Regions from separate parts of the Homo sapiens genome. Here regions 1 and 3 are each linked to region 2. The links come from fine-mapping of genetic effects on gene expression. A gene starts in region 2. Each other region holds a variant in brackets. All regions are shown on one strand. Distances are between the middles of the regions.

Region 1 (10,338 bases), 68 kb after region 2:
TTTCCTGAATGGCCTATCAATCAGTAACCGAGTGCGTGCCAAACCCAGCCCACACGGGAACCCGGTGTCCTCGGCTCTCCAGTAAATACTACTTCAGGTCTCATGTCCGAGGACCATATGCTCCCAACACAGCTAATAAAATCATCCAGGAGTAGCCTGGAGGCCGCAGACACCCGCCCCAGGGGGCAGGAGGGGGACGAGCCAGGCTGGGCCTCCGCTGTTCAAGAGTGTTCCTGACCTGCTCTCTCTAGCACCCTGGGCACCTGCCAGGGGACCCTGAATCCCCTGAATTCTGAGCTTTGCCTTCACATCTGAGGCCCCACTGCTTATAAGCTACATGAGGGAGGGATTGCATCTGAAAGTTCACCCACCGATCCCAGTGCCTCACCCCCCTTTGGGCACTTAGTGCACCCTCCATACATGTTTACTGAGTGCACACGTGACTGGTTGAGTAGAGGAATGAATGAGTGATTGATTACCAACCAGGTGGACCACCCCTGTCCCTGCTCCATGCCTCCAGGAGCAAGGAAGTTGTGGGGTCAGGGTAGGCAGCTGGGGTGGTCAGAGGTGTGCGTGATCCCTTCTTCCTTGGCCTCACAGCTAAGGTCACAGGCTTTGGAATCAGCAGACCTGGATTTGAGCCCTGGCTTAGCCAATTATGAACTAAGTTTCATGCGCATCCGTGTGAAGAGAACCACCAAACAGGCTTTGTGTGAGCAACATGGCTGTTTATTTCACCTGGGTGCAGGCGGGCTGAGTCCAAAAAGAGAGTCAGCGAAGGGAGATAGGGGTGGGGCCGTTTTATAGGATTTGGGAAGATAATGGAAAATTACAGTCAAAGGGGGTTGTTCTCTGGTGGGCAGGGAAGGGGGGTCACAAGGTGCTCAGTGGGGGAGCTTCTGAGCCAGGAGAAGGAAATTCACAGGGTTAATCACTCAGTTAAGGTGGGGCAGAAACAAATCACAATGGTGGAATGTCATCAGTTAAGGCGGGGCAGGGCCTTTTCACTTCTTTTGTGATTCTTCAGTTACTTCAAGCCATCTGGGCGTATAGGTGCAAGTCACAGGGGATGCGATGGCTTGGCTTGGGCTCAGAGGCCTGACATTCCTGCCTTCATATATTAATAAGAAAAATAAAACAAAATAGTGTTGAAGTGTTGGGGCGGTGAAAATTTTGGGGGAGTGGTATGGAGACAGAATGGACGATGTTTCTCCGGGCTGCTTCAAGCGGGATTAGGGGTGGCGTGGGAACCTAGAGTGGGAGAGATTAAGCTGAAGGGAGGTCTTGTGGTAAGGGGTGATATTGTGGGGTTGTTAGAAGAAACATTTGTCATGTAGAATGATTGGTGATGGCCTGGATACGGTTTTGTATGAATTGAAAAACTAAATGGAATAAGAGAAGGAGAAAAACAGGTATAAAAGGTCTAAGAATTGGGAGGACCTAGGACATTTAATTAGAGAGTGCCTATGGAGATTCAGCATAGTCCTGCCAGCAAAGATTATTTATTTACTTCAAGAGTTAAGAGTGGCAATTTGGAGATAGCACGAGGAGATATCAGCTGTGATGGCTTGGAGAAACAGTATAAACCGGCAGTGTAAACAAGAGCAGGGCATGTATGAGTAGTTGAGAACGGTGAATAGGAGTATGACTAGACAGAAGATAGTAGGGATGACAAGTTTTTTGGGGCACAGTCGAAGTTGGTCTGGTGTCTGGAATGAGACTGGGGCCTAATAAAAAGGAGCATCTATACAGGAGGTTAAATGGGCTGTACCTTGTAGCATTCTGAGGACATGTCTGACTTCTGAGAAGGGAAAGTGGTAAAAGTATTGTCCAGTCCTTTTTAAGTTGGTGGCTGAGCTTGGTGAGGTGTGTTTTTAATAGACCATTAGTCTGTCACTGAATACTAAGAGCCTGAAAAAATGCTTGGCTGATTTGACTAATAAAGGCTGGTCTGTTATCAGACTGTATAGAGGTGGGAAGGCTAAACTGAGGAATTATGTCTGACAGAAGGGAAGAAATGACTGTGGTGGCCTTCTCAGACCTTGTAGGAAAGGCCTCTAAAAGTATTAAAGCAGTGGCAGCCGCTGCACGCAGACATGAGGGCTAGGCTAAAACAGTAAGGTCAAGTTGTTTGCACAGAAAGGCTACAGTGTGCGGTCCTGGCTCTTGTGTAAGAATTTTGACTGCACTAACCATGCCTAGGAAGGAAAGGAGTTGTTGTTTTGTAAAGGATTGAGGTTTGGGAGATTAGTCGGACACGATCAGCAGGAAGAGCACGTGTGTTTTTACGAGAATTATGCCGAGATAGGTAACAGATGAGGATGAAATTTGGGCTTGACTGAAGTAATGGGGGCTGTCTGTGAAGCCTTGTGGCAGTACAGCCCAGGTAATTTGCTGAGCCTGATGGGTGTCAGGGTCAGTCCAAGTGAAGCGAAGAGAGGCTGGGATGACGGGTGCAAAGGAATAGTAAAGAAAGCACGTTTGAGATCCAGAACAGAATAATGGATTGTGGAGGGAGGTATTGCGGATAGGAGAGTATATGGGTTTGGCACCATGGGGTGGATAGGCAAAACAATTTGGTTGATAAGGCATAGATCCTGAACTAACTTGTAAGGCTTGTCTGGTTTTAGGACAGGTAAAATGGGGGAATTGTAAGGAGAGTTTATAGGCTTTAAAAGGCCATGCTGTAGCAGGCGAGTGATAACAGGCATTAATCCTTTCAAAGCTTGCTGTGGGATGGGATATTGGCATTGAGTGGGGTAAGGGTGATTAGGTTTTAATGAGATGGTAAGGGGTGCATGATTGGTCGCCAAGGAGGGAGTAGAGGTCTCTTGTGGGTTAAGGTGGGGGAATACAAGAGGAGGACGCAAAGGAGGCTTTGGATTGGGAAGAAGGGCAGCAATGAGATGCAGCTGTAATCCAGGAATAGTCAGGGAAGCAGATAATTTGGTTAAAATATCTCGGCCTAATAAGGGAACTGGGCAGGTGGAGATAACTAAAAAAGAGTGCATAAAAGAGTGTTGTCTAAGTTGGCACCAGAGTTGGGGAGTTTTAAGAGGTTTAGAAGTCTGGCTGTCAATACGCACAGCAGTTATGGAGGCAAGGGAAACAGGCCTTTGAAAAGAAGGTAATGTGGAGTGGGTAGCCTCCGTATTGATTAAGAAGGGGATGGACTTACACTCCACTGTGAGAGTTACTTAAAGCTCGGCATCCGCGATGGTCTACGGGGCTTCCAAGGCAATCAGGCAGCCTCAGTCTTCAGCTGCTAAGCCGAGAAGGAGTCAGTCAGGGAGCCTTGGGCCAGAGTTCCAGGGGCTCTGGGAGTGGCTGCCAGGTGAGTTGAACAGTCCGATTTCCAGTGGGGTCCCGCGCAGATGGGACACGGCTTAGGAGGAATCCTGGGCTGCAGGCATTCCTTGGCCTGGTGTCCAGATTTCTAGCACTTGTAGTAAGCTCCTGGGGGAGGAGGTTCTGGAGGAACGCCTGGCCGCTGCAGTTCAGGCGTTTGGAAGTTCTTGTGTGCTGGAGATGTAGCTGGGGTTTGTCTCACAGTGGAGGTAAGGAATTGCAACTTTTTTTATTATTGTACACCTTGAAGGTGAGGTTAATTAAGTCCTGTTGTGGGGTTTGAGGGCCAGATTCTAATTTTTGGAGTTTTATTTAATGTCGGGAGCAGATTGGGTAATAAAATGTATATTGAGAATAAGATGGCCTTTTGACCTTTTAGGGTCTAGGGCTGTAAAGCTTCTCAGGGTTGCTGCCGAACGAGCCATGAACTCGGCTGGGGTTTTATATTTGATGAAAAAGAGCCTAAACGCTATCTGATTTGGGATAAAGAAAAAGGAGCATTAACCTTGACTATGCCTTTAGCTCCAGCCACCTTTTTAAGAGTAAATTGCTGGGCAGGTGGGGGAGGGCTAGTCACAGAACGAAACTGTAAGTCAGACCGGGTGTGAGGAGGAGAGG[C/T]GATAAAAAGATTACAGGGTGGAGGAGCGGAGGCTGAGGAAGAAATGGGACCTAGCTTGGTCTGGCGAGGAGGGGAGAGGTCAGATGGGTCTGTAGAAAAGGAAGATTAGAAAGACTCAGCGACGCTTGGGGTTGGGACTGAGGGGACAGGCGGGAGGGAAAGAAGGAAGATTTGGGACGAGTTGCACTGGGCACAGAGACTAGGAAGGGACTGATGTGTAAAAGAATGCGTGGACGTCAGGCACCTCAGATCATTTGCCCATTTTACGACAAGAATTATTTAGCTCTTGTAGGATGGAAAAATTGAAAGAGCTGTTTTCCGGCTATTTGGAACTACTGTCGAGTTTGTATTGGGGTCAAGCGGCATTGCAGAAGAAAATAAGACACTTTGATTTTAGGTCAGGTGAGAGTTGAAGAGGTTTTAAGTTCTTAAGGATACAGGCTAAGGGAGAAGAAGGAGGAATGGAAGGTGGAAGCTTGCCCATAGTGAAGGAGGCAAGCCTAGAGAAAAGAGTAGAGATACGGAGAAGGGGGTGGGGGTTTCTTGCCCTCCAGAAAAGCAGAGAAAGGGTTGGGGCACGGAAATAAGGGATTGGGGCACAGAGATAAGAGGTCGGGGTGCGGAAATAAGGGATTGGGACACAGAGATAAGAGGTCGGGGTGCGGAAATAAGGGATTGGGGGTTCTTGCCCCCTAGAAAAGCGGGACTTGCCACTAAGGGTGAAGGAGAAGGGGTTGAGGGGTACTTGCCCCTCCCCCAGAGGGCGCTGGAGTTTTGAGTCCACGGAGTTTTGGGTCCACGGAGTTTGGGTCCACGGAGTTTTGGGTCCACGTGTCTCCTTTGTCTCTATCAGAAAATGAAAGGAATTGAAATTAAGAGAAGGGAGAGATTGAAGTGTGGCGCCAAGATTGAAATGTGAATATGTATGTATGTGAATGTGTGTATGTGTGTGCGAATGTGTAAGTGAGTGTGTGAATGTGTGTGAGTGTGAATGTGTGTGAAAATATTTGAATATGTGTGAGTGTGGGAATGTGTGTATGTGAATGTGTGTATGAGTGTGTGTGAATGTGTGAGTGTGTGAATGTGTGTATGTGAATATGCGTGTGTGTGAATGTGTGAATGTGTGTGTGAGTGTGTGGGTGTGTGTGTGTAAGAGTATGTGAATGTGTAAGTGAGTGTGAGTGTGTATGTGACTGTGTGAGTTTGTGTGTGTTGTGCGTTGCTAGTTGAGCTGGAACTGGGGAGGAGCAGAGCAACCCAGGAGGGTTGCGTGGGTGGACCTAGCATCTGGAGCGCTGCGCGGCGATTCAGCCTCCTCAGCTGAGAATCAGAGGTCTGTTTTGGAGGACACCATTGGTCCCCTCCAGTAGTTCTTAGAGGCTGGCAAGGACACAGGCTGGGGCAGGGAGTGAGCCCAGCCTCCGGCTTCACTGCGAGACATGACTGGGGTGAAGGGCAGGACCTGTGTAGTGGAGAATTTGAGTGGCCGCCGTCTATGTTGTACTGCACAGCAGCCTGCGGCGCCACCATCCTGTCCTGTGGCACTAGGGGGAGGCAGACACCAGGTTCCCAGTGCGGAGGCCTGGAGCTTCCTTCCGCGGAGGACCGCAGAGACACATCCAGTAGTGGGCCAGGGAGGCGGGTTGTCCTCTCCAGCCATCAGAGCCACGCCCAAGGAGTCAGGCACAGCGGGGAGGAGGGCTCCCCTCCCTTCCCACAGCTCCCACCCTTCCCACACTGCACTTTCCAGGAGTGCAGACGCGGCAGCTGGCCTCCCAGGACCTGCCCCACCCTGGAGGTCTGCACTGAGCCCCTTCGCCAAATGAGGCAAGACTTCTCCTGAGCCTGGGGTCTCAGGGCAAACTCCTGAGGTCGCCTCTCCTAAATCTGAGGCATTCCCAACGGATCTGGAAGATTCATTCTCTCTGGATGGATTTTTCCTCCTCTCAAGCTTCGCAGTGGAAATGATATGAAGCAGGGGCGGGGCAGTGACGGAGCTGCTAGAGCAGGGTAGACAGGCGTGGGCGTGAGCTTGGCTCGGTCACTGACCACCTGGGCAGCCCTGGGGAAGTCCTTTAGTGTCTCGGAGCCTCAGTTTTCTCATCTGTGAGATGGGGTTTGTGATATCCAACTCATTAAAGAGATTGAACGAGATCATGTGTGTAAATGAGATATGTACGCCACAAAGTGCTGCGAACATGTAAAGTGGGTGAGGGATGAAGCAGTGTTCACCAAGGCTTCTGCTGGGCTGGGTGATTGCGTGTTTTTCAGCCATTTATTATTCAGCAAATTTTTGTTGACTATCAAGTATGTGCCAGACACTGTATTAGTGTTTTTGACAAGCTTAAGTGGATAGTGTTTATGAAACTACAGAACATAAACCTTCTAGTTTATCTTCTAGTTCAGGATTTCCCAAATGCCAGCCCCAAGACCTATGCTAAGCTTCTTACATCCAAATACTGGGAAACAGAAAATACAGATCCCGGATTCTGTAGTCTGGGATCTCTCTCTCCTTCACCTCACCTGTGCCTGTGTGCATGTGTAGTTGTGTGGTTTCGGAGCCACTGAGACCCAGAGATGGCAAATGCTCTCAGGGGATAGCATGTCGCATGCCAGGGGCTTCGGGCATGCGCCTATTATCTTTTCCAGAGGGGCAGGGACAGCCCAGCCATGGTCTCAGGACTCCTCCTAAAGGTTTGACCCATAGGAATGTGTCGGCAGATTGCCCAGAATATAGAGTCCGAAGGCCTTCTAATTCTATATTTTGTCACTTAATGGCTCTGTCATTTAGTGCCTGCATAATTTTTAGCAAGTCACTCTCTTTCTGAAGCCTCAATTTCCTCATCTGTAACATGCGGATATTGATGTCTGTCTTGCTGTGGTATCTTCATGTGAGCATACTTTGAAAACTGCAGGCCGGGCGCGGTAGCTCACGCCTGTAATCGCACCACTTTGGGAAGCCTAGGCGGGCGGATCACGAGGTCAGGAGTTCAGGACCAGCCTGGCCTACAAAGTGAAACCCCATCTCTACTAAAAATGCAAAAATTAGCTGGGTGTGGTGGCATGCACCTGTAGTCCCAGCTACTCGGGAGGCTGAGGTGGGAGAATCATTTGAACCCAGGAGGTGGAGGTTGCAGTGAGCCGAGACCACGCCTTTGCACTCTAGCCTGGGTGAAAACTGCAAAGCTCCAATTTTTAACTCCGACGAAAGCCAGAACCAGACTGAGTTTTCAAAGGAGAAACCCTTCAGGCTGAATTTTCTTCCACTTCTTCCAAGTCCAGCTGTATCTAATATTGAAAGATAATCTCCATGGAGGAGCCCCCATCCCGCCCAAAGGTTTCTCATACTCAGTCTTTGGGCGACACCTGCTGGCCATGGCAGGTACTGTGACCTTCTCTAGCTAAACAACTCTGCGGAGAAAACTTGCCCATCTCCTTAGACATTCACAGCCACGCTGCAGGGTCGGTGTTCTGTTCCCACTTCCACAGACCAAAAAGGTGAGACTTGGTCCTCCCAGCTCATGAGAAGTGCGGTGAATCTCTGACTCCAGGTTCTTGGCTCCATCTCATCCCTTCTTGCTCTTAGGCTGGGCGGAGTGGGGAGTCATTTCCTCCCAGGCAGAGGAGATCTCCCACCCCCCAAATCATTCTGAAGTAGGTACTGGGATTTGGGGCAAGGCCAGGGTTGGAGCCTAGGACAGGCCTGGTCAAGAAAGACTCATCCTTGTGTCAACAACCCCACCAGGCAGACCACCACATCCAGTTCCCCATCTGCAGAGCAACTAGACTGATGGCAGGGGCTTCAGCGATAAAAATTCACTCTGAGGAGGCAGAGAGATGCCATTTGGTCAGGCTGTGTGGTGAGGAGCTGGGGACAGGCTACCCGCTGAGCCTGTTGCCTCTGTGCCCACTGTGTGGGGAAGTGGCTAGCCTGAAATCTGGCGTGTGGCTTGGGGGAAGCGGGTGCCCCGGCCAAGGAACTTCTCAGTCAGGAGGCAAAAAGTATTGTGATTGAGAAAGAGGATTTGGCCTCATCCTTGAGAGATGCACACAAAATGATCAATGGATGAAATTATGTAACACAAGAAATTTGCTTCAGAAAAATTCATGGTGATGGGAGGGGAGCATAGATGAAACAAAAAACTGGCCATGAGTCAACTCTTGTAGCATCTGGGAAATGAGTGCATAATAATTCGTTATACTGTTCTCCCCACTTTTGTATATTCTTGAAATTTTCCATGTTCAAACTTTAAAAAATGTAACAGCAGTAACACTACCACCACCACCAAAGTCAATACATAGAATGATGAGTTTGAAATTAGACTGCCTTGAGCATCTGACGCTGCGTGAATTGGACAACTTAGTTAATTTCTCTATGTCTCAGTTTCACTGTCTGTAAAATGGGGATGATAATAATCATACCAGTCTTATAGGGTTGTTTGGAGATTATGCATCTGGAGTAATTAGCATAGTGCTGGGCCCACAGCAAGTGCTCAATTATAATCATTGTTATTAGTAGGAGTCCAGGACTCTGATTATGATTTGCCAAAAGAAGAAGCTACTTTGGCTGATGCAGACAAACAATTAGCCCGCCAGTTCAGCTCAGAGTTTGGACCGATGAGTCTTTGAGGACACAGCTCTGAACTGCCATGTGCCAGATGTGTGGGTGTCTCAGATGGGTAGACACACCATAGAGTCAGGCTTTCCTGAGCCCCTGCAGGGAGGCCTTTTCCCTGCCTCTCTGCATATCCTTCCCATTGCTCAAGCCCAACTCACATCCTACCTTGGTTTTTACTGACCACTCCTTTCTCTGAGCTTAAGCAGCTCTCTTCACAGACTTATCGAACCCCTTGCCCTAGGTGAGACTGTAAAGATCATCCAACCCAGCCACATCATCATAGCTTCATTCGACAAACAGTCATCAAAGACCTGCCTTGGGTACTGAGGATGGAGTGGTGAACAAGGTGGGCAAGAGTCTGAAGGCAACAGGGCCTAGGAGGGAGGTAAACACCACTTAGCTGAGCGCAGGCCAGGCGGTCAGGAGCCCTGGACCTAAGCCCTGACTCTGCCATGTGACCTGGGACGCCCTTCACCTGCCAGCCACTGTTTCCTAGGCACTTGCAGGAGATGCTCCCCAGGTCCCTTCACACTCTGACCTGCTGACTCTGAGCATGTAGGCTTCCCTGTGTTGCTCTTTAAACATCTTCTACTCCACTGGAATGCAAGCTTCCTGAGGGCAGGGACTCTGTGCTAGACTTTCCAGGGATCGGGGAACTCCTTGCACAGGGGCTGGGCACAGAGTTGCCAAAAGAATGAGTAAACCAACAAAATGTACTTCCTTTAGGCCAGGTGTGGACCAGAAACAGTGAAAGAACAGAGTTTTTAACCAGGAGAAGTGGGAAATGGATCCCCCAAAACCTCATACTGTAGCACTTGGAGATTGACAATGCCCACCAGCGTGTTAAAGCCTGCAGTAAAAAACAAAAACAAAAACAACTCCCACAAAAACCTATTTACCTTTGATTATTCCACTGTTTTCCAAACCTATTTGACCATAGATCAGTTTTTGCACCTTACCTATTACCTTCTCATGAAACACTTGTGAAATGCTATGTTAGATCTTTTTCTGTTTTCTGCTGGATTTATCAAAAATAAGGTCAAGTTTGGTAAAGATGCTGGGTTTCAATGTCATTGTGGCCTGAAATGGGAACCTTATTGCTGCATTCTTAGCTGAGCTCTGCCACCCTCACTGGGGCTGGGCTAGGACCTTAGATGACATTCTGAGTCACCCATTGTGTAAGTAAGTGCCATTTGACCCAGGCAACACCCCATTTCCCAACTTTCACCAAATGATGAATGGGATCATGTTTTCTCTCAAATAATCCACATCAGGATTACAGGCCAAGGAGGCCAGTTCAGTAGAAGTTCGTGGGATAGTGGTCCAGAGTGATTGGCATGTCAGCCCAGGAAATCCAACAAAACATTGGACAACAGTAAGAGAAGATCAGCTACCTACTGAGGGGGTGATGGCGCTGGACTGGAGCTGCTCAGACCTCATCCGGATTCATGAGTCTATTCTGTTTTAAGAGAGATTTTTTTTTTCTTTTATGAGACAGAGTCTGTCACCCAGTCTGGAGCACAGTGGTACAATCACAGCTCACTAACATCCTCAGCCTCCCAGGCTCAGAAGATCCTCCCACCTCAACCTCCCGAGTAGCTGGGACTACAGGCATGCACCACCGTGCCTGGCTACTTTTAAATGTTTTTGTAGAGATGGGTCTCCATGTGTTGTCCAGGCTGGTCTTGAATTCCTGGGCTCAAGTGACCCTCTCACCTCAGCCTCTCGAAGTGCTGGGATTACAGGCGTGAGC
Region 2 (10,338 bases):
AAAAGACAAATGGGTGCATATTTGCAGAGAGGAGGGGCTTGGGGGAGGAGTGGTCATGTGCTCCGATTTGGATCACCAACAGCTTCTGGAAGATGCGTGTTCATAATTAGAGATCCGCACCTCGAGGTGACATTTCACACTTAACAGACAAGTTTAAGTTAATCAGGCAGCAATTGGTTCTCTAGACTAATGGGATTGGGGTGGATTTTTCACTTAGAAACAAATCTCATTCGTGTCTTGGCATGCCTAGAATAATGCTTTTTCCTTACATATGTTATGGTTTTCCTGCGGGAAGACAGAGTGAAATTTTATTTCAGACTTCCCTCACTCTGACTGCCTTTGCTTTCTCCCTTTCCCCAAAATCAAGATCCTGATATAAAGGTATCTAAGTAAGGAAACGGACTGTGCAGGACCCATTCTATGAAGAGGGATGCCGGTGTTTATTCTTCTGATGTGTGGGTACGTGTCAGGTGTGTGTTACTGGGCTGCAAGTGGCAGGTCAAGCACTTTTAGAGGAGAAGGACTTGTGCTGAATTTCTGCTTTCTCAGGATGAAAGCCTGTCCTCCCCAGCTGTTCCAACCCACGTACATCAGTTAGGCTTGTATTGGCTGTATGGAACAGAAAACCAGCTACAGTCACTTTATGTAATAGGAGTTGAATTTGCTCACATAACAAGGAATCTGGGATGAAGCCATTCAGATGTTGTTGACGGCTCTTACAGCTTCTTGTCCTGCCATCCTTACTCAAATACTTATTTTCTTCATGGTTGCAAAATGGCTGCTTCATCTCCAGGCATCACATCCATGTTTCTGACAAAGAAGAAGAATGAGGAGGAGGAAGACAGGAAAGAACAAAGGGCGGAGGGCAAAAGAAACATACCACTGTATTTTTCTTGGAGCAATGCTGTTCTAATCTCCTTGGCCAGAACTGGGTCATATGGACACCCAGAGTTGCAAAGGAGTCTGAGAAAATGAGTAGTTTGAGCATACTGCTGCTCAGTTAGAAAAAATGTTCTGACAGAAAGGAAAAAGAAGAGAACCGAAGTTGGCTAGGGACCGAGCAGTGTCTGCCACCCTATCCCGACAGCTCTGTGAGTAGTCAGGGAATACCTGCTTTTCATCCCCCAGGTCAGTGCGATGGTTACCTGCTCCTCCTCTGGAGGCAGTCTGGCCTGGGAGGTCCCCAGGACTCACCATTCAGGAGAAGGCCTTCATTTGAAATGATCACAGCCCTGTGAGGCTCACTATCCATCTCTCCTCTGGCTGTGGCCTCGAGCACCAACTACTTCCTCTCTTCATCTTGGCAAGAGAAAGCAAAGCTAATGAATTTCACAAGTGTGGTCTAGGCACAGGGTATCAGCACTCAGGGAACCAATTCTGAAGACTCTCTGAAGACTTACGGCTAAGACCTTTGGTTAAGGCAGGAGGTTGCTGGCTGGAGATCAAAATGAATGTGGAGAAGTTGGTTGGAGCAAGACCAGGCAGAGTCCTTCAAGTCAACAACTACAATTCACTTAAATTCAACAAGTTATAAGTGGGTCACCACACATGATAGTGGGGTCTATAAGTGGAGTGAGAGGCCAGGTCTGACCTTAAGGAGTTCTCATTCTATTAGGGCAGCAGACACATGCAAGTAAACATAGCAAAGTTCAGGCTATGATAAGTGCAATTATAGACGTAGAGACACAATGCTGTTAATTACAGCATGGATAAGACAGCTTTCATTTTTAATAAGGTAATATTTGAATTTAACTTTGCAGCATAGGTAGAATTCTTGTAAGTAGAGAAAATAGGCAGAGGATGTAGAGGCAGAGGATGTTTCAAGCAGAGAAAACTATGTAAACAAAGATTTGGGGGTAGGAATCAGGCAGCGTATGTGGATAACTGTGCACGGCTCTTTTGGTCTGGGACACGACATTTACAAGGATTGGAGTGATGAGGGTGATGGGGGGAAATAGGGCAGGGAATGGGTCACGAGATGAAGCAGGAGAGGCAGGTGGGTGTCAGGTTGTAAAGGCTGAATGTCGTGTTAAGAATTTTGACTTTAACTCGTAGAAAATACGGAGCCATTGAAGTTTTGAATCGCATTTGTATTGGGGAAGATAACTCTACCTAGAGGTAGGGGGACTGTGGCAGAGTCACCAGTGAGAATCTGATGCCAGAGACCTGACCTAGAACAGGAGTGGTGGGCAGGAAAGGAGGCACTGGGGGAGAGGTCTGAGCGTGGCATGTGTTCTGCAGGGTAACTGGATTGGGGGCAGTGCCATTCATGAATTCAAAGAAGACATGAGAGGGAACGGCTTCAAGCCGTGAGAGGATGGATAGGGAGTGGACTGGGAGGATGGATTGGGAGTGGGCGGTGCTGACTCCCTGGGATTACTTGCCTGGGTCTCCTGGGGAGAGGACCGGGCTGGATATTGTGGACTCATCAAGCCTAAGCGGGTGGTAAAACCCTGGTTGTGGATTTAGATTGTCTAGCAACTGCATAAGATGACCAAGGACTCAACACAGCTGCTTGAGGGAGAAGTTGGAGGAGTTTGACAAAGAAAGGTTGGAGAGAGAGGAAGGGACCCAGGATCAAGGAGTGGTTTGGAAGTGAGCAGAGCTGTTTCAGCCAAGGAGCTAGGAAACGATTCTGTCCTAGGGGTTGGGGGTTTGGCATTTGGCTGAGTGGGGAGGACACACATTCACACCTGTGCAAAGCCAAGTGGGTATGCATGGACACAAAGTAGCAGTCAGTGGGCAAGATCGGCTCCCTTCTGCAGCCCCACCCCAGGATGAAGTGGCACCCCACTAGAAGGGATGCCTGCTAGGAGGGGTGAGGGTCTCTTCTAAGACTCCTGGTCTCTCCCCTTTAACTTCCCCTTTAGGCCCTCCATGTCCGGTGTGACCAGGACACAGGAGGTCACTCTGTGACCTGTCCGTGGCTGTGTGACCAGGGCACTGACATGCGGAAGGGCTATTTTGCTGCAATACAAGGGGACCAGGGCAAGTCCTCTCCAGATGGGATTTTAGCTGCACATTTGTGAGTTACTTAGCCCAGAGCAAGCTTCAAAGCATAGAGCAGTCCCTGATGCTCCCAGCAGTTATGCTGTCCTCTCCAGCTCCAGGTCTTCCCATGGTTCCAGTTCTGGCGGGTGGGGAGTATTTCAGGAATGGTTTCCACCCTTTCTTACCCTACTTTCTCCATGGCTGCGCAGCCCTGCCCTGGATCTTTTTTTGTTCTTTGGGCTTGTAAAGAAGCAGGATTCTTTAGTGGGGATCAGGCTTATTTCTCAGCTTCATGTTAGTGCTGCCCCCACACAGCCCCCTGAACCCTGACTTGCAGGGTCCACCAGGAACATCCCAACCCAACCTCTCACCAATTCTTGCTCAGAACAGTTTTCATGATGCCCATCAGTGCTTCCCAGGATAAAAGCTGGAATCACCAGGAATTGTTGGGCCAGTCCCACCCTGGCTCCTTTCACACCATGCCCCTTCTGCCTCAGGGCCTTTGCACATACTGCTTCTGTTCCAGAGGCAGAATCATCTTCCCACCCTGACATCCCAATTCTTGGCTCCTTTACCTCATCTTCTTAACATCTCCTGACCTTTCTCAAATGCTATATCTTCAGGGCTCTGAACTGTGTTTTAATTACACGTTTATTCATGGGAACATTTGCTAAATCTCTATCTCACCCAGGGACCACATCTTTCCTCTCCACAGTATATCCTCAGATCTTGGCCCAGGTCTCAGTGAAGAGTAGCTCCTCCTGTCCATACGTGGTTGAAAGAATGGAACAGCTGGCGACCTCTTTTTATGAATGCCCACATTTTTCACAGGGGGTAGATGTGTTTATTTTCCTGCTAGAAGGGAGATGTGACTCACCCCAGAACAAGCTTGCGTGCTGCTTTGTAGCTGTAACACCCCAAATTCTTCCAGCAGTACCCTTGGATGGAACGTGATGAAGCACTATTTGAGAGTTAAGCCATGGCGGTTTCTCATGCACATTTAGTTCCTGTTATCCCTCTGCAGCCTGGGCTGGTCAGCATTAGGTAGGGGGACCTGGGAAGTCACTGGGCCAAACACTTCAGAACTCTCTGGCTGGAAATGGGGTTGAACCAGAAGGTGGCTTGGCTTTGGAGTTCTGAACTATCCTTTCCCAAATAGGCTTGCAAAGCCTGGGCTTGACGTGTCATCACTAGTAGGTGCTCTAAAAAGCACAGAGAGATGGCCAAAAGGCAGGATTCAAGGGCATTTGGAGGGATGAATGTACCTGCCTAAGGACATGGGCCTAGAAAGGGATGTGGTTTTAAATCTGCCACCTAGAATACATGAAAAGGGAAAACGACAGTTGGAATGCTGTCCTCAGTTTATAGAGGAAAAGACAGGAACGGCAAAGGGTTAGGCACGCAAATAGGCAAGATTTGAGTCTGGCTTTGGAGAAGGAGCTTTAGCATTCACAGGAACCCCAGGGAGTTCAGGACTGGGCCAGAGTGGCATCCATTCAGCCAGGTCCCATGATTAAGGGGCCAGAACTATCCCCTGAGGGGAGGCTTTTTGGGTGCTCTTTCTCAGTAGCTATTTATGGTTCCCCTACTGGTTCCAAAGTCTTCTTGAGTTCATGTATATTTCCTGCCTTGGGGTTTTGAGACCTGACCTTTTATTAAAATAATTAGATCATCTAGGGCAGAGCTGGAAGAGACCTCAGGATCATCTAGTCCATCTCCCTATTTTCCCAAATGAGAAAACAGGCCCAGAACTGAGGGCAGCAGAGGCAGGGCTAGGTTTCTTCCTAGCAGTACCCATCATCCCCGGCTTGGGGTTTGTAAGGAACTCTCCGTGGCCCTACCTAGGCTTGGACAATCACAGCCTTTCTCAGTAGCTCCTCCCTCCACCCGGCTCGGCCATACACACACCTTGACTGAGGCTGGACAGCCTCCATCTCAGCATGGCTCCTGGCTACTGACACTTGTGCCTGGCCTCTGCCCCTTCCTACAAGCTCTGCCCCTAATAGTAAGAGCCAATTTCTTGAGCACTCACTATGAGCTAAGCCTCCCATGGGGTCAGTCTCTAATCACCATTTTCCCACGTGAGGAAATAGACTCAGGAGCTGAGTGCAGAGATATGCTCCAAGTCGCGTCACAGGCAGGGTTGCCGAGCCAGGATTTATTTACATCTTCACATTCAAAGTTCGTCATCATGAATTTTGACTCTTGGGGACTGGGCTGAGGACGGGGTGGTACTGCTCCTGGCAGGGCCAGAGGTGGATGGGGCTTGAAAAGGGGGTTCAAGGCAGCAGATCTATGGTTCAGGTAAGGACCATCCCCCCAGCTCCCCACCTGGCTCTAGCTGAAAATGACAACTACAACTGGAGCTGGCTCCTGCGCCCACGACACAGCCATTCATGCTTTTGGTGCACATTCCCCTTAATTACCAAGGCTCCCAATTAACGTGGGCTGCTGTGTCTGGTGCTGGGTTATTTTCTCCTATTTTTCCGTTCCTCGGGGTTTACTATTGCAGAGAGACACCAGGTCTGTCATTGTGCCTGTCTTGCTCCCTTCCCACCCTAACCAGAGGGAAACCGAAAAGCAACAGCTGATGGCAAATCCGCTCCGGCGCTTGCACGCCTCCTCGGCGGCAGTCTCCTGTTGCTTCTCGGAGCTTGACTGCCCTTTGGAAAAATCTCTCCGCCCCTCGAGAGGAGAGAGGAGCAGAGGACGCGCGCGAGCACAGAGCGGGAGGACGGACAGGGAGAGGAGGAGAGGGGGTCTGCGCGCGGCCGCTACCCAGAAGCCAGCGGACGGCAGCACGGAGTGGGCTGTCCCCGAGCCCAGCCCCGAGCGAGCCCCCCCCCCGCCCCCGCAGGACGCGCCTCCCAGCCAGCCCGACTCCTAGGAGGAGGGGAGGCGGGAAAGCAGCTCAAGCCTCACCCACCGCCCTGCCCCCAGCCCCGCCACTCCCAGGCTCCTCGGGACTCGGCGGGTCCTCCTGGGAGTCTCGGAGGGGACCGGCTGTGCAGGTAGGCGGCTGGGGAGGTGGGCAAAGTTGGCTCCTTTTTCCGAGGAGGGGCGAGGCTCGGTGGGGACCGATCTCTGGAGCGCCGGGAGCGCCGGGTTTTGTGTGTTCAGTGGGTGTGTGCGGTCCTCCGCGGTCAGCTGCGCCGCGGTCCCCGCCTGGGCAGCGGGAAACCGGGCTGGGGATGTAAACAAGGAGATCGGCGTCGGAAGAGAGAGGAGCCTCTAGGGGAGGCAGGCTGTGGCGCTGGGGGTGACGCTGGTGGCTGGGAATTGCTCTCGGTGCTGCCTTGAGCTTGGGGTCAGGGTTTTCAGGAGAAGGGGAAAGGGCTGCGCCCACCCTTTATCCATGAGGAGTTTTCCCTTTGTTACTTGGAAGCTGTGGACACTTGGTGGAGCGTGGGGAATTACGGACGAGGGCGTGTGGCTGGGTGTGAGTGTGGACTTATGAGCGACACAAAATGGAACTTGCTGGTTTGGTGCTTGGGGAAGGTGGGGCTGGGCAGTGGGCACAGGATGGGGGCGCAGGGAAAGAAGGATTCTAGCGCTCGGGGATTCATGAGAGTGCATCATTTTTTCCCTCCTTCTTGTCTTATCCATCCAATCCTGTTTCCTTTCCGGGGGGCCCTGGGGTCCGCCATTGCCCCCTTTCCCCAGCAGGGCTGGCCCTGGCAGAGCCTCCCCTATTGTGTCTCCCGGGCTTCCGTGGAGAGTTGGGTGTGCAGCCTGGAGCTCCCAGCGCTGGCTTCTGGCTCTTACAAGTGGTGGCTGGTAGAGGAGGCACCCGAGGGTGGGAGCTGGGAGCAGCCTCGCTGGAAACATGGGTCTGCCGCGTCACCTGCTGCAAGCCTGCACGCTCGCGGGACCGTGGCTACTGGAGGCTTCTCCCCACCAGTGTGCTCTCTGCCACTACTTCCTTTGTCTCTGTGGCTTCGTGCTGTCTGGCTGGGCTAAGATTTCCAGCTTTGAAGATGGATCAGTGGGCATCTCAGGCCCTCTCTGAAAGGAGCCCCCTTTGGGGATCCAGCCACCCTCATATTATGGATGTGTATGTCTACGTCCGCAACTTAGCCTTTTGCACGTGACTTGCCTGGTCGTTGCCATGGAAACTCCTCCATTTCTCAGCCTCCCTCTTTCTCCTGCCCATTCCTCACCTCCATATCTCCTCCCCTCCCCCCAGTATGGTTGCCTAGATACTGGTTATCCCTGGCTAGGAGACCTAGATATCTGGCTCCTACACCCAATTGCAGTGGCCCCTTACTCACACCACCCACTTCACACACACTGCACATCACCAACACCACAAACACATACAGACATATACCACACTACGCAATCAACACACCCTCACACTCACACCACACATACATATACATCATACCTATACACACATACACACCAAACACACCGCATATATACCGCACCACCACACACCAGCTACAATGCTACACTGACACCCTACATGCGCACTGTGCATGCACACACACACACACAGTACATCTAAATAAGTCTCAGGCTGGGCTGAGGCAGGGGAGAGAGAGGGCAGTTTCCTTCCTTATCCAGCCACCTCCCTAGGGGTGTGGAGGGGAAGAGATGGAGGCTCAGGAAGCCCAGAAGGAAAACCCTAACATCTCCCTGGGAACCCTGCAGAGGAAGGTGGAGGGAAAGGCACTGCCAGATTCCCTCAAAAGAGGAGCCCCTTCCCTAAACCTGGAAGGGAAGGTTGGATAAAGAGTGGGCGCAGCCCTTTTCCCTCCTCCTCAAAGCCCCAGTCCGGAGCTCCAGGTGTTAACGAGAGCCATTCCCAGGTGCTGGGCTCCAGAAGCTGGGCACTGACCAGAATTTCAATCTCTCCACTGCCGCTGCTCTTTTCCCTGACCCAGAGAAAGCCTGAGGCTCTGGGAGTCATCCTCACCAGCAGAGGATCAGGCCAGCTCTGGGACCATCGGAGGCTCTGAGCCCTAACAAAGGAGAGAAGGAAAAGTGGTTACTGTCCCAGGAAAGCCAAGGAGGCCAGGCCAGGGAGGCAGGAAGGGGAGGGAAACCAGAAAGAGGGAAGGAGAGGGGCCACAGGAGTCAAGAAAGCGAAAGTTAGGGCTACCCGCCGTTGCCTGGGGTTCAGGCCACCCTCTCTTCCTGGCACGTTTTCCTGCTTCCCCCCTGGCTCCTCCAAACAGATCTGTGCATCTAGGAGAGGAAGCGGGTGTGCAAAGGGCTCTAGGCTTGCCAGGGTTCTCCCAAGACGTGTGGCTTCTATGGTTGACAGACGGTAGGCGCCTGGGGGAAGCGTTTCCTTCCTGGCTTCCATCGGATCTTCAGACTGACCTGAGGACCGATTTCATTCAATCATTCAAAGAACTGTTTTAAGTGTCTACTGTGTATTAATTGCTGGGGACATGAAGGTGAGGAGGGAGACACAATCCCTGACATCGGAATCCTAGGTTTCTCAGAGCCGGAAGAGGCCTTGAGGGAGCATCCAGTGGGAACACAGTGGGGGAAACTGAGGCTCAGCAGTCACGTGGCCAGTAGTCGCTGAGGCCTTCTAACTCCTCGGCCAGGATTTTGGCCTTCACACTGCCTGTCCTGCAACCCTTGCTTTCTTTTCTCAGTCACCATCAGAGATGGTGGGTTGATGGAAACCTATGGAGGGAGAGCCTTTGGTCGGCTGGTGACTGGGACGCCCTTCCAAAGTGAGGGTCCCTTAGTGGGCGGGTACAACCGAGGAGCCTGCTTCACTATGTTTTCTTGGAAGGCGAGGCTGGAAGCTGTGGCAAGGAGATGGGGGAGAAAGGGCAGTTTCCTAGACCCTGGAAATTTCCCGACAGCCTCGGGGGAGTCCACCCACCGAAATCTCCCCTAAATAAGAGCACCTCCTCTCTTCCTCCCAACCTTGTTGGACTTAGTCGGCCGCCATCTGGATGGCAGACTGTGCCAGGCAGCCCCCCAATATTCACCTTCGAACAAATCACCTTCTGAGCACCCTAAGGGAAGCAAACCAGTCAAGAAAGGCACAGCCCCAAGGAGGCAGGGAGCCTGCTGTGGAAAGGCCGGGTTCTAGCCCCAGCTCTCCCCCTGAGCTTCCGTGCTACCGAAAGGCAAATGCGTTCATTGCACAAATATCCCTTTGGATGCAAACTGGGCTTCTGGTGAAATCCAGAAATGGCTTGGACTGCTCTTCAGCAACTGAAAGCCTTTCGGATTTTAGACCTTTGTTTCCGCATCTGTCAATAGTGGGGTTTAGACTCATGATTTCCAAGGCATGTCTTCCTCTAAATTTGTGTGGATTATACAATCTTGAAAGAGATCCCTTTTCTCTCCAGGTACCAAATAGTACTCATTATTTCATAATACAGGGCTGCAGCTGAGCTGAGCTGAGCAGGAAGGGGCTGGGCTCTGGTTACCCTGGAGAAAGTTTCCTTTTCACCCAGTGTGGCAGAAGGTGCCCTAGAAGCTGAAACCAAGTTTTTTTCTTTAGGGCTGAGGGAGCCACCTCCTCCTGGATGCTGTGGTCTACCTGGCCTTTTCTACCAGGCTGCACACTGGAGGCGGGCGGCGGTTGGGGGGGGTTCTTTAAAGAGTTGTTCTCTGGAAGAGACAACTGGAGAGGACTGGGCTGTCATTTTGGAGGTCCATGAAATCTTCTGCAGGGAGAACCCCTGGCCAGCTGGAGAGTTGCAACGAGAGGGGCCGGTCGGGAACACAGTGCTCTGACACCGTCCCTGATGAGAGGCAGGACATCTCCGGCCGAAACAAAAGCATGGAACCAATTTGGCAGCATCATCTCTGCTCCAGAATCCGGGGAGGGAGAGGTCCCGACCTGGGAAGGGATGAAGCCAGCTTGTAGGCTGCGCAGGAACATGTTTGTTACAAAGATGTGGGAGGGAGCACACAGCCTGGGAAAGGGGCTGGGCCCCCACGGACCAGGCTGGGGCCATGGGAATGGGGCTGCCCCAGCTCAGAATATCTGATGTGGGCAGAGAGGGCCAAGGATGAAGGGGTGTAGTTAGAATAACAGTGACCCCCACGCAGCTGGAGGACAAAGCCAGGCCCACACTGAGAGACCAGAGGCTAAGGTTTCAAACTCCCTCGTTCATCCTTTTAATAAATGTTCCCCTCATATGTCAGGCAGGCCCTGTGGGCTTCTGAGGTTTCTCCTTTGCTGGAGCCCTCCTGCTCAGGTAGATCAATGGGCTTGTCCTGTTCCTTCCTCTCCCCTACTGTCCACCTCATGTCCACATCCTACCAGGAGGCCCTGCGACTTTCTTCCTCCATAGGAAGAGCCCCTCCATGCAATCACGGGTGCACTTACACTCTCACACACGTTCCCTTCCTCACACATAT
Region 3 (10,338 bases), 42 kb after region 2:
TGGAACCTTTTCTGGAGGCCCTTGGGACAGTTGAGCTTGGGAGAAGGGAAGCAGAGGGCTTCCTGGCCTCTCTAGATGCCCAGGTCCTCTCTACAGGACCTGCGACACAGTCCCCACTTGTCACCTGTTCATGAGGCTCTTTGAGCTGAATAGACACTTGGACCTTCTTTCTACTCCCACATAGAGGTCATACCCCATTAGTTTACTATAATAGCCAAGGGTAGCTTGGACCCCAGAAGTCCAAAGCGTGTGGCAGGACACACCCAAGCCCCCATGTGGCCCTAGCCTCCCCTTCCCATGAGGGCTGACATTGAAGGGTGCCTGTAAGTTCCCTCTGAGTCTGACCCTTCAGTCCAGACCTTTCCCTCTGTCCCATGCATCCCACAGCAGAGTGAGCTCCAGCCCCTCAGGGCACTGGGAGGAGCCTGACTGCAGGCAGCTGTGCCCCAGTGAGGAGCAGAACGATGCTCTCTGGGTCTGCCCTGGAGATCTCTGATGGGGCTGTGTGTCTCTTTCTCCTGCAGGGCCCCAGGAGATGAGGAAGCCCAGGTGGAGAACCTCATCACCGCCAATGGTAACTGTCCGTGACCACCTGCCCAGGTGGAAAAGAGGGAACAGAGAGACCCCTCTGTGGCTCAGGAAGGGACTGTTGCCAGGTGCATGGCCAGCCAGACATGCTCCCGCAGTGCCAGGAGAGTGGGTCTCCAGGGCCTCTGCAGCATTGCCCCCTCACTCCACCAAACAGGCTACTACTAGTGTCACCTGCTATTTACAGAGCATCTGCTTGTGCCAGGCACAGACCCCATATCATTTAATGGGCACACAGCCCTGAAATAGGCATCATTGTCCCCATTTTGTAACCGAGGGACTGAGAGAGGTTACCAGGTTCCTGTAAGCAGCAAGTAGCAGGGCCAGGATTGAACCCAGATCGTTCTGACTCGAAATCCCATGCCCGTCACCTCTTTGCTCCCCCAGAGTCAGGCAGAGACACGGCTGCTGTTGGGGGTGGCCCACGGGGGTGAGGAGTCTATACACTATAATCCATTCTGGTTTTCTTTCCAGCAACAGAGCCCCAGAAAGCAGAGAACTGAAGTGCAGCCATCAGGTGGAAGGTGAGATGCTCAGTGCCTGGATTGGCCCCTGTTGCCATCACCGTCTGCATCAGGGCCTGGACAGGGGTTCAGGCGGGAAGGATGGGGCTAGCTTTTGCAGTGGGCACAGCTTTTATTATGGGCCCTGCCCTGAGGAGCCTTCAGGAGTCTGAAAGGGGCTGTGAGAGAGACCAGGACTAGAAACACCCGAAGTGTCCCACACACATGCATGCCAACACCAGGAAATGGGGCTTCCACACAGCCCACTGGCCGAGTGCATAGGGCGTCATCCCAAGTGCAACATGGGAGAATTAGAGTTAGTGAAATGCTCCTAATCTCAAAGTAGCATAAAGATAATGGCTTTCCGTGGTGACTCAGAAAGTACTTTAGGGCCACTTGTTTTTTTAAACACCTTATTATGAAACTTCCCAACCCTAACCAAAAGTAGAGCAAATAGTATATGATCCTTCCCTCTCCACATTTAAGGGCACTGATTTTAGTATCTATTTCCATTGTTCATCGTAGGGGGCACAGGAGAGTAGTAACTGGCAAATGCTGTACAGTTTTCAGAGTGCCACCACACACACAGACTCACTCGAGTCTGCCAGAAAAAGAGGATGGGACAGGTGGGGTTTAGCCCATTTTATAGGTGAAACCAAGATGAGAGGGAATAGCCCCGTGGAGAGTGACAGCCCGGACTGTGAACTCAGGCCTTTGCGGCTGTGGTTCAGCGCCACTGCTCCCCTCTGTCCTGTGCGTCTCGCTTTATGACATGCCCTGGAATATCCTAAGGGAAAAGGTTTGTGTTTTGTCAGCTCACTTCTGCCTTTTTTTCCCCCCATACAAGTAAGGCATTATAGAAAGGTATATAAGTTTATCTCACATTGTAAGGTAAAAGAGGTTTCTGGATGATGAAGTGCCCGATGCACCAGCTTTGACTGTGCGTAACAATATCGTGTGCCTGTGTAGCATTTAAATTCTTTCCTAAGTGCTTTTGCATCCTCATAGCGGCCCGTGATGGGCAGAGCAGGGCTCATTACTCCCGTCTTCTGGATGGGGCTCTCGAAGGCAAGTGATCACCTAAGTGCGAATGGACGAAGATTCCGATCTAGGAGGCAGGTGCCCTTCCTGGTAGCTTGGTGTTCTGTCTATTTCATCACAGACTGAGAATCTGGGAAGGCTCAGAGGAGGCAGCCTGGAAATGAAATGTCTTTTCATTTTTTTTTTCCCAAACTAGTTCTTTCTCAGAAACCTTTTATCCTAAGGCTCAGGACTGTGAGCAACCACTGGGGAGGTCCTGGGTTTAACAATTTCCTTTCCATGTCTGCCAGGCTCCAGCCCACCTGGGAGAGGCTTCTTCTGAGGTTCACCCCTCCCCTGTGTCTTTGTCTCCTTTCTCTGCGTCTCAGACGAGGCTGTCATACCGGGAATTTCAGTGGGCAGGTGCTCAAGGAAGGGAGAGAAGCAGATAAGGATACCAGAGGCAGCCGAAGTGTTTTTAATTTAAATTATCCTCCTCCTCAGCCTCTGGAACCTGAGGCGGCTGCTTGAACCTTTGGATGCAAATGTCGATGCTTAAGAAAACCGGCCACTTCAGCAACAGCCCTTTCCCCAGGAGAAGCCAAGAACTTGTGTGTCCCCCACCCTATCCCCTCTAACACCATTCCTCCACCTGATGATGCAACTAACACTTGCCTCCCCACTGCAGCCTGCGGTCCTGCCCACCTCCCGTGATGTGTGTGTGTGTGTGTGTGTGTGTGACTGTGTGTGTTTGCTAACTGTGGTCTTTGTGGCTACTTGTTTGTGGATGGTATTGTGTTTGTTAGTGAACTGTGGACTCGCTTTCCCAGGCAGGGGCTGAGCCACATGGCCATCTGCTCCTCCCTGCCCCCGTGGCCCTCCATCACCTTCTGCTCCTAGGAGGCTGCTTGTTGCCCGAGACCAGCCCCCTCCCCTGATTTAGGGATGCGTAGGGTAAGAGCACGGGCAGTGGTCTTCAGTCGTCTTGGGACCTGGGAAGGTTTGCAGCACTTTGTCATCATTCTTCATGGACTCCTTTCACTCCTTTAACAAAAACCTTGCTTCCTTATCCCACCTGATCCCAGTCTGAAGGTCTCTTAGCAACTGGAGATACAAAGCAAGGAGCTGGTGAGCCCAGCGTTGACGTCAGGCAGGCTATGCCCTTCCGTGGTTAATTTCTTCCCAGGGGCTTCCACGAGGAGTCCCCATCTGCCCCGCCCCTTCACAGAGCGCCCGGGGATTCCAGGCCCAGGGCTTCTACTCTGCCCCTGGGGAATGTGTCCCCTGCATATCTTCTCAGCAATAACTCCATGGGCTCTGGGACCCTACCCCTTCCAACCTTCCCTGCTTCTGAGACTTCAATCTACAGCCCAGCTCATCCAGATGCAGACTACAGTCCCTGCAATTGGGTCTCTGGCAGGCAATAGTTGAAGGACTCCTGTTCCGTTGGGGCCAGCACACCGGGATGGATGGAGGGAGAGCAGAGGCCTTTGCTTCTCTGCCTACGTCCCCTTAGATGGGCAGCAGAGGCAACTCCCGCATCCTTTGCTCTGCCTGTCAGTGGTCAGAGCGGTGAGCGAGGTGGGTTGGAGACTCAGCAGGCTCCGTGCAGCCCTTGGGAACAGTGAGAGGTTGAAGGTCATAACGAGAGTGGGAACTCAACCCAGATCCCGCCCCTCCTGTCCTCTGTGTTCCCGCGGAAACCAACCAAACCGTGCGCTGTGACCCATTGCTGTTCTCTGTATCGTGATCTATCCTCAACAACAACAGAAAAAAGGAATAAAATATCCTTTGTTTCCTAGTGGCTCGGAGGTGCTTTCCTTTCTGTGAAAGAACTTGAGTGTTTGTAGGGTCTGTGGAACTTAAAGGGCTAGAGGGAGTCCGTCCATGGTCAGAGGGAAGAGGAAGGACTGGATAGCCACCCAGGCAGGCACAGAGCCCCGTCAGCTGCTGTCACTGTTGCCTCCTCCCCGCTTCTCTTCCCTCCTTTCCTTTTCTTCCTTCACTTTCCTCTCCTCCTGCTCAGCCCTTCGTCCCGCACCTTCCCGCCATTTCTATTCCTCCCTCCCTCTCTCCCGCCTTCCCAGGCCACTGGGCTCAAGCCACATCCCATAGCAGGACCTGTACATTGCACACTGTCTTGGAGCAAAAAAGGGAGTCACAATGGCTTCTCCAAGTACTCAGTGGCCTGGAGTAAAACATCCTAACATTTCTCTTTGGTCAGTTCTGGGGCCACTACCTAAGGACTTGTAAAGAGAGCCAGGGGTGGTGACTCATACCTGTAATTCCAGCAACTTGGGAGCCT[A/G]AAGCAGGAGAATTGCTTGAGGCCAGGAGTTCAAGACCAGCTGGGCAACATGGTGAAATCTTAGCTGGGCATGGTGGCTCGCACCTGTTGTCACAGCTACTCGGCAGGCTGAGGCAGGAGGATTGCTTGAACCCTGGAGTTCCAGGTTGCAGTGAACCGTGATTGCACCACTGCACTCCAGCCTGGGCAACAGAATGAGACCTTGTCTCTAAAAAGAAAAAAGGAAGGAAGGGATCAAGGGAGTGACAGGGTGGGTGACGTGGATTGTGAAATACCCCTCCTCTGTGGAGCCTCCCTGGGCATTAGGTAGAATCGAATCCCTTTTTTTTTTTTTTTTTTTTTTTGAGATGGAGTTTTGCTCTTGTCGCCCAGGCTGGAGTGCAGTGGCGTTATCTTGGCCCACTGCAACCTCTGCCTTCTGAGTTCAAGCGATTCTCCTGCCTCAGCCTCCTGAGCAGCTGAGATTACAGGTGCCTTCCACCATACCCGGCTAATTTTTATATTTTTAGTAGAGACGGGATTTCTTCATGTTGTCCAAGCTGGTCTCGAACTTTTGGCCTCAAGTGATCTGCCTGCCTCAGCCTCCCAAATTGTTGGGATTAGAGGCGTGAGCCACAGCGCCCAGCCGAATCCCTTTCTTGTGCCCCAATCACACTTGTTTGCTGCCTTTATATTCACACTTCATACTTGGCATCCAGACTGTAGAGACCAGGCAGGTAATGCCAATATGTGAATCTGCTGGAGTGACGATGGGGCATGGCACCTGCAGTCACCTACGGTGTCCTCCCAAAGACACTCTGACTCAACTTTCTAAAAACCACTGTTGGCCAAACCAACACAGATGTGGGCAGATTCTGCGTGGAGGTTGCCTGTGTGCAGCTTCTGCCTCTAGTGTTTTGTGTCTTTATTGATACAATTCCTGGAGGGCAAGGACTGTGCCTGCTCTACAGAAGCCTGGAACATCTTAGGGTCTTGAAAAAAGAATCGACCCCTGGAACGTCTTAATATCTTCCATCTTGAAGCCAGCACTTAAGGAGCGGGACCCTCTGGGCCCACCTCCTTCCAGCCCCAACTTCTAAGACCCCAGTGAACCTGGCACCTGAAGCTATAGCAGGAGACAGAAGTCAGTGCTCCTTGTGGTTTCGATGGGCCTGGGAACCACCACCTTCCCTGCCCAGTGGCCACACAGGCCCTGAGTCCGCCTGGATTCCGCAAGTTGTTTAGAACCGAAGAACCGCACAGATCCGCTTGCTCGGTGCCTTCTCTACGTGTGCTCTTGCTTCTGCCTTCGGTCCCCCAGGCCTTTGGAAAGACACAGGCTTATGGTAGAGCTCAAGCTCAACCTGTCAACCCAGTGATCATGGCGATTAAAAACTATCTGGTCACAGCAAGACCTGGTAAATGAGCTTATTGTTCGGGAACACTCGTGATACATCAGGGAATTGACAGGCCTTGCAGAAATTTCATAGCGAGGCCAGGCTGAGATCCCTAGAGGCCCTAGACATGCAAAGCTTTGTGTGTGCCGCCCCCCATACGTTAGTAAAAACAGAACATTATACTTCGACATAGGAATAAGGAAGTCCAATGAGGAGGTTCTAATTTTTCTCATAATAATTATGTTAAGAGTAAGGAATGATGGTCAGCATCTCTAGCACATCATCTACAAATGGTTATCCTTACTTTGCCCGCCTCTAAGCACTCACTTAGTTTTCCTCCTAGTAATCCAGCTATATTCTGAGATTGGTCAGAGATACAATCGTCCTGGTCCAGGTTACACAGCTGGGGGATGGAGGAGCTAGGACTTGACCCCGGGCTGTCTGTCCATAGTGCTTGTCAGCACATGGCCTAGCCTCCTTCAGCAGGCAGATGCTCAGAAGAAGGGACAGTGATCAGATGGCTCCCAAGACTGCACCTGGAGCATGGCTGCCCCTTCAAGACATAAACTAGCTGGACCATGCTCCAAGGAGCCTCCTGTGGGAGTCTAATGGTCTGGAAACAAGACACATGAAGAACAATCGAAGAAATGATGGTCAAAATGGTAATAATTAAAAAAAATGAGCAGCTGAAGTTTATGGAGCACTTACTATGTGCTTGTTTGAGGACTTCACACAGATGAGCTGGATCAGAACTCAGAGTGCTATATATCTCCATGAGGAGGACCAGGAGTGTCCACTCAGCCTCCAGGCATGTGGCACTGGTTTGTAGCTGTGATTTGGTTTAATGAGGCAATGTAGCTTGACTGAATAAGAAGGACAGCTGCCATGCTGTGTCATTTCCCAGAAGGGAATCCCAAGTTCCCTGTCTCAGTAACCTCAGGTGTCCCACACCTTTTGCCTCCCAGTGACTCCCTCCACCCCCCATTCCATTTCGAAGATCTCCATGTCTCTTTGCCTGGAGGTTTTCTGCGTTACTTACCCCTGCTGTAGGAATAGGTCAGTCTGCCTTCTGGGACCCCAGGTGCTGTGGCCCTCCTACCTCTCTGTTTTTTGTTTTTTGTTTTTTTTTTGCAAGATGTAGATTAGAACTTGCCAAATTGTTCTTGGAAGAGAGTCAGAGGCAGAGTACAAGCTGTAGGGAGCGGTGTGAGGGGAGTGCCAGGCGAAGCACACTCCAAGGTCACCGGGCTGTTGGCCCCTTCCTCTGGGAGGAGGGCCTTACCTTGCTTGGAATCATGGGCTTGGCGGGGAGGCTGGGCAAAGCAGGGGTGGGAGAGCACTCCAGCTCTGTCTGGTTCACCCCACCTTGTTCCTGGCTGCTCTGCCTCACCCTGGGCCCAGCGAGAGAAAGGTCAGGTGTGTTTGCCTGAGCCAGGGGAGGAGCTTTGGAAAAACCTGTCTCCAGGCCACAGAGAAGGAATGGCCACCTCTCTCCATTAGTGTGATTTATTGCTGTCACAGCTGAGCTCCAGGGGGGCAGACTCAGCCGGCTCAAGCCAACCAGCTGTTGATCTGATGGGGCCAGCCCAGCCCCGGGCCTGGTTGCACAACAGTGGGGCACCTGCCAAGGCAATGATGGCAGAGCAGGTGATGCTGTGATCGCATGTCCTGAAGGACCTGGATGGCAGGGACTGGAGGGGGTGGGCCCCCCTGCACTATCCAGAAGAACGGTTTCCTACCTCTGAGCTGGGCTTGGAGGCAGTCTGGTAGAGCCTGAGGCTCAGAACATCCCCGAGGTCCCTTCTGCTCTAACAGTGTGAGCTTGGAAAGACCCCAGCCTCTCTGTCAGTTTCCTTTTCTGAATAATCAAGTCCTTCCTAGCTTTGGGGTAAGCTGGGCCTCCTGCTCACTGTGTAACCCTGGAAAAGCCACTTAAGCCTCAGTTTCATCACCTATAAAATAAATGCATCAAGATGTTTTCTGTTATCTCACAGGGTCAAAGTGATACAATGGACATCGAAGCACCGTGACAATTCTCCATGTAGCCATTATGCTATAAATGTTGGCATCACTATCCATTTCCTTGTCTCCTCATTCTCTGATGGCCGGGTTCCTCTTGTCTCTGTTAGACTTGGGTTCATGTTCTGACCTGTTTGCAGACCACCTGCAGTGTCCTCTGTAAAATGGGCATCTCACAGCCTGCCTGGCTGAATTGTTGGGAGGCTCTAAGCAGCTCTTTGGAACCACTGAGACCCTGGAATAGGGTGGAATTGCTGCCAAGTGTGGAGAGTGGGCACCAGGCTCAGTGCAGGTACAAACGTTTAACAGCTTACCCGACCTGAGGCCTCAAGGAGGCCAGGGACTTGGCAATCTGTGCTATAAATGAAGAGAATGGTGACACGGCCACATGCTGGCCATTCAAGCCATGTCAGTGGCATCCGGAAGGTGGTGGAGGGAAGGTAAGAGTAACCAGGGGTGGGCTTGCTCCGCGAGGTCTTCCCGGAGGTGGCGAGCCTCTCCCAGAGGTGAGAGGGAGTTTGGTTACTGGGAGGAGAAAACCAAGAAAAGCTGGAGAGGAATGGGCTCTGTTGTGGTTCAAGCCTGGATGTGAGTTCTGAGAACAGTCAAGAATGCATTTCTCTCCAAGGCATTCACTGTGGGGGAGGTGGGTCAAATGGGTTTGCCCTTGTCACCAGCTGGTGACCTTGACTCTCAGAGTACATTGCCCTTTGGCAGTTCTCAGAACCTCTGTGCACCATGGCTCAGGCCTTCTTGAAGCCAACACTTAAGGAATGGACCCTCTGGGGCCCACCTCCTTCCAGCCCTGCCTTATAAGACCCCAGGGACCTGGCACCTGCAACCATAGCAGGAGGCAGGAGCCAGCGTTCCTCAGGATTCAGGACCTCTGAGTGGGACAAATGGGGCTTGGGAACTGCCACTTTCCCTGCCCAGTGGCCATACGGGTTATGCAGCTGAGGACTGACTTGGGCCTGGGGTCATGGCTTTCTAGGTGCTTCTGGCTTCTGCTTCATTGGAGCCCCTTTCCAGCTGCAAGCCAACACCAGGAGGAACTGATCTGGGGACCTGGAGTTCAAGGCTGTAAACTCCCACAAAGGCCAGAGCTGGCGGAGCTGGAGAACCCCATTCTGGGAAGCTGGTGGTGAGGGCCTCTGCCTTTGATCACCAGGAAAACAGAGGTCAGCTGGATTCCAGCCTATTTCCTCCCTGCCCCACCAACCCAGCAACGACCACCCCAAATGACTGCCCTGAGACTTAGGAGTCAGGAGACAAAAGGGAGGCCTGCCTAGGGGAGACAGGGGAGATGGAGGCCTCGCCACTGAGGGCACGGTCCCATCAGCTGTGACAGTGCTGACGCATCCAGGAGTGGGCACTGCCTCTACCTCCCAACATCTCCCAGAGCTCTGGGTCTTGCAGAGAACAGGAGAGCACAGCTGGATGCTCCTTTGTCTCCATCCTGGAACCATTAGACAAAGGAGGTTTCTTGGTTTTGTGTGGAGAAGAAAGGGAGGCTGGAGATGCAGGGTGAGTTGTGGCCAGCAGGATCATACCAGGGCAGGGTGCTCCCAGAGGCCTGCTTTAGAGATCACCGCAACTGGGGACTGAGCCAAGGGAAGGGATTGCTGTGAGTGTTCTTGTCTCCTGGGGGGCTCAGTTCGGAGTAAGGAAAACACAGCCATCAGTTTTTAGGACCTTCTCTGGCCAAACGCTTGACCTACCTTGCCTCTGTTCCCACAACAATACTGCAAGGTAGGTGTTATTACCCTATTTTACAGGTGGGAGGAGACCCAGAGGGGTGCCCTTGCCCAGGGTCAGGCAGTCCTCAGCAAAGTCTCAGGATGAAAGGGGATTTATGCATGGGTGTGTCTGGCCCTCAGGGTGCCTTGCGTGGTGTCTAGGAGGAGAGACCCTCCTGAACTGAGCTGCTCTCAGGAACATGGGCCACAGGTGGAAGGGCCGCAACCTCTCTGCAGGAGAGCAGGTGTCTCAGAGAGGGGTTCCCTGTCCCCAGTGCTAGCTAGGACCCATGACCTGAGCTAGCTGGGGGAGGACAGGAAGGAAGTCTGAGAAGGACTTAAACATGAGTGAAGCGAGAGGGGTGGGACCTGCTTGACTTAACAAATGCCTGGGCTTCCCCCAAAGAACAAACAGGACAATTTCTGAAAATTGCTGCTGGGCTGGAGAAGGAAGGGGAGGTTAGGGGAGTGGGGGGATGGGGTGCAAGAGGAGGGAGAGAGAACCCCGAGAGGGACTCTGGGGGAGCTGTCAGCAAGGTGAGGGTTGCTGCCTCTGTGAGGGCAAATCGGGTCTTGTGACTCCTCACAGGGCAGGCGACAGCATGGAAGGAGGCTGCCTGAGGCAAGTCCTAGGTCTGCCTGCAGCATGGGAGAAGTGATTTCCCCTCTATCCTGTCCCCATCTTTGCCTGATTTTTGCCTGGGACTGATTCATTCATTTAATAAAACTGGGTCCCACGATGCACTGTTCCAGGCATGGGGGAATGAACAAACAAACAAAAATCCTTGCTC

The links. PIP is the estimated chance that this variant, and not a neighbour inherited with it, causes the effect.
Region 1: its variant is fine-mapped to the expression of FXYD6 in whole blood (TOPMed, PIP 0.95).
Region 3: its variant is fine-mapped to the expression of FXYD6 in whole blood (TOPMed, PIP above 0.99).

The regions. Positions count from the first base shown.
Region 1 is chr11:117,804,663-117,815,000 of GRCh38, reverse strand. It overlaps a transcript of DSCAML1 not described here. Among named protein-coding and RNA genes, the nearest start is that of DSCAML1, 13 kb to the right of the region's middle. RefSeq lists enhancers at 614-1,191, 5,426-5,475, 5,526-5,595. The variant C/T (reference allele first, on the strand shown) is at 3,967.
Region 2 is chr11:117,872,256-117,882,593 of GRCh38, reverse strand. FXYD6 (FXYD domain containing ion transport regulator 6) reads left to right here and starts at 5,936. Exons shown (of 8, transcript NM_022003.4): 1 at 5,936-6,002. FXYD6-FXYD2 (FXYD6-FXYD2 readthrough) reads left to right here and starts at 5,936. Exons shown (of 10, transcript NM_001243598.4): 1 at 5,936-6,002.
Region 3 is chr11:117,830,555-117,840,892 of GRCh38, reverse strand. FXYD6-FXYD2 (FXYD6-FXYD2 readthrough) reads left to right here. Exons shown (of 10, transcript NM_001243598.4): 5 at 525-574; 6 at 1,063-1,112. It overlaps FXYD6 (FXYD domain containing ion transport regulator 6), which reads left to right. Exons shown (of 8, transcript NM_022003.4): 6 at 525-574; 7 at 1,063-1,112; 8 at 2,616-3,912. The coding sequence ends at 1,091. It overlaps FXYD6-AS1 (FXYD6 antisense RNA 1), which reads right to left and starts at 7,175. Exons shown (of 3, transcript NR_186291.1): 1 at 6,832-7,175; 2 at 4,391-4,624; 3 at 2,574-3,725. The variant A/G (reference allele first, on the strand shown) is at 4,417.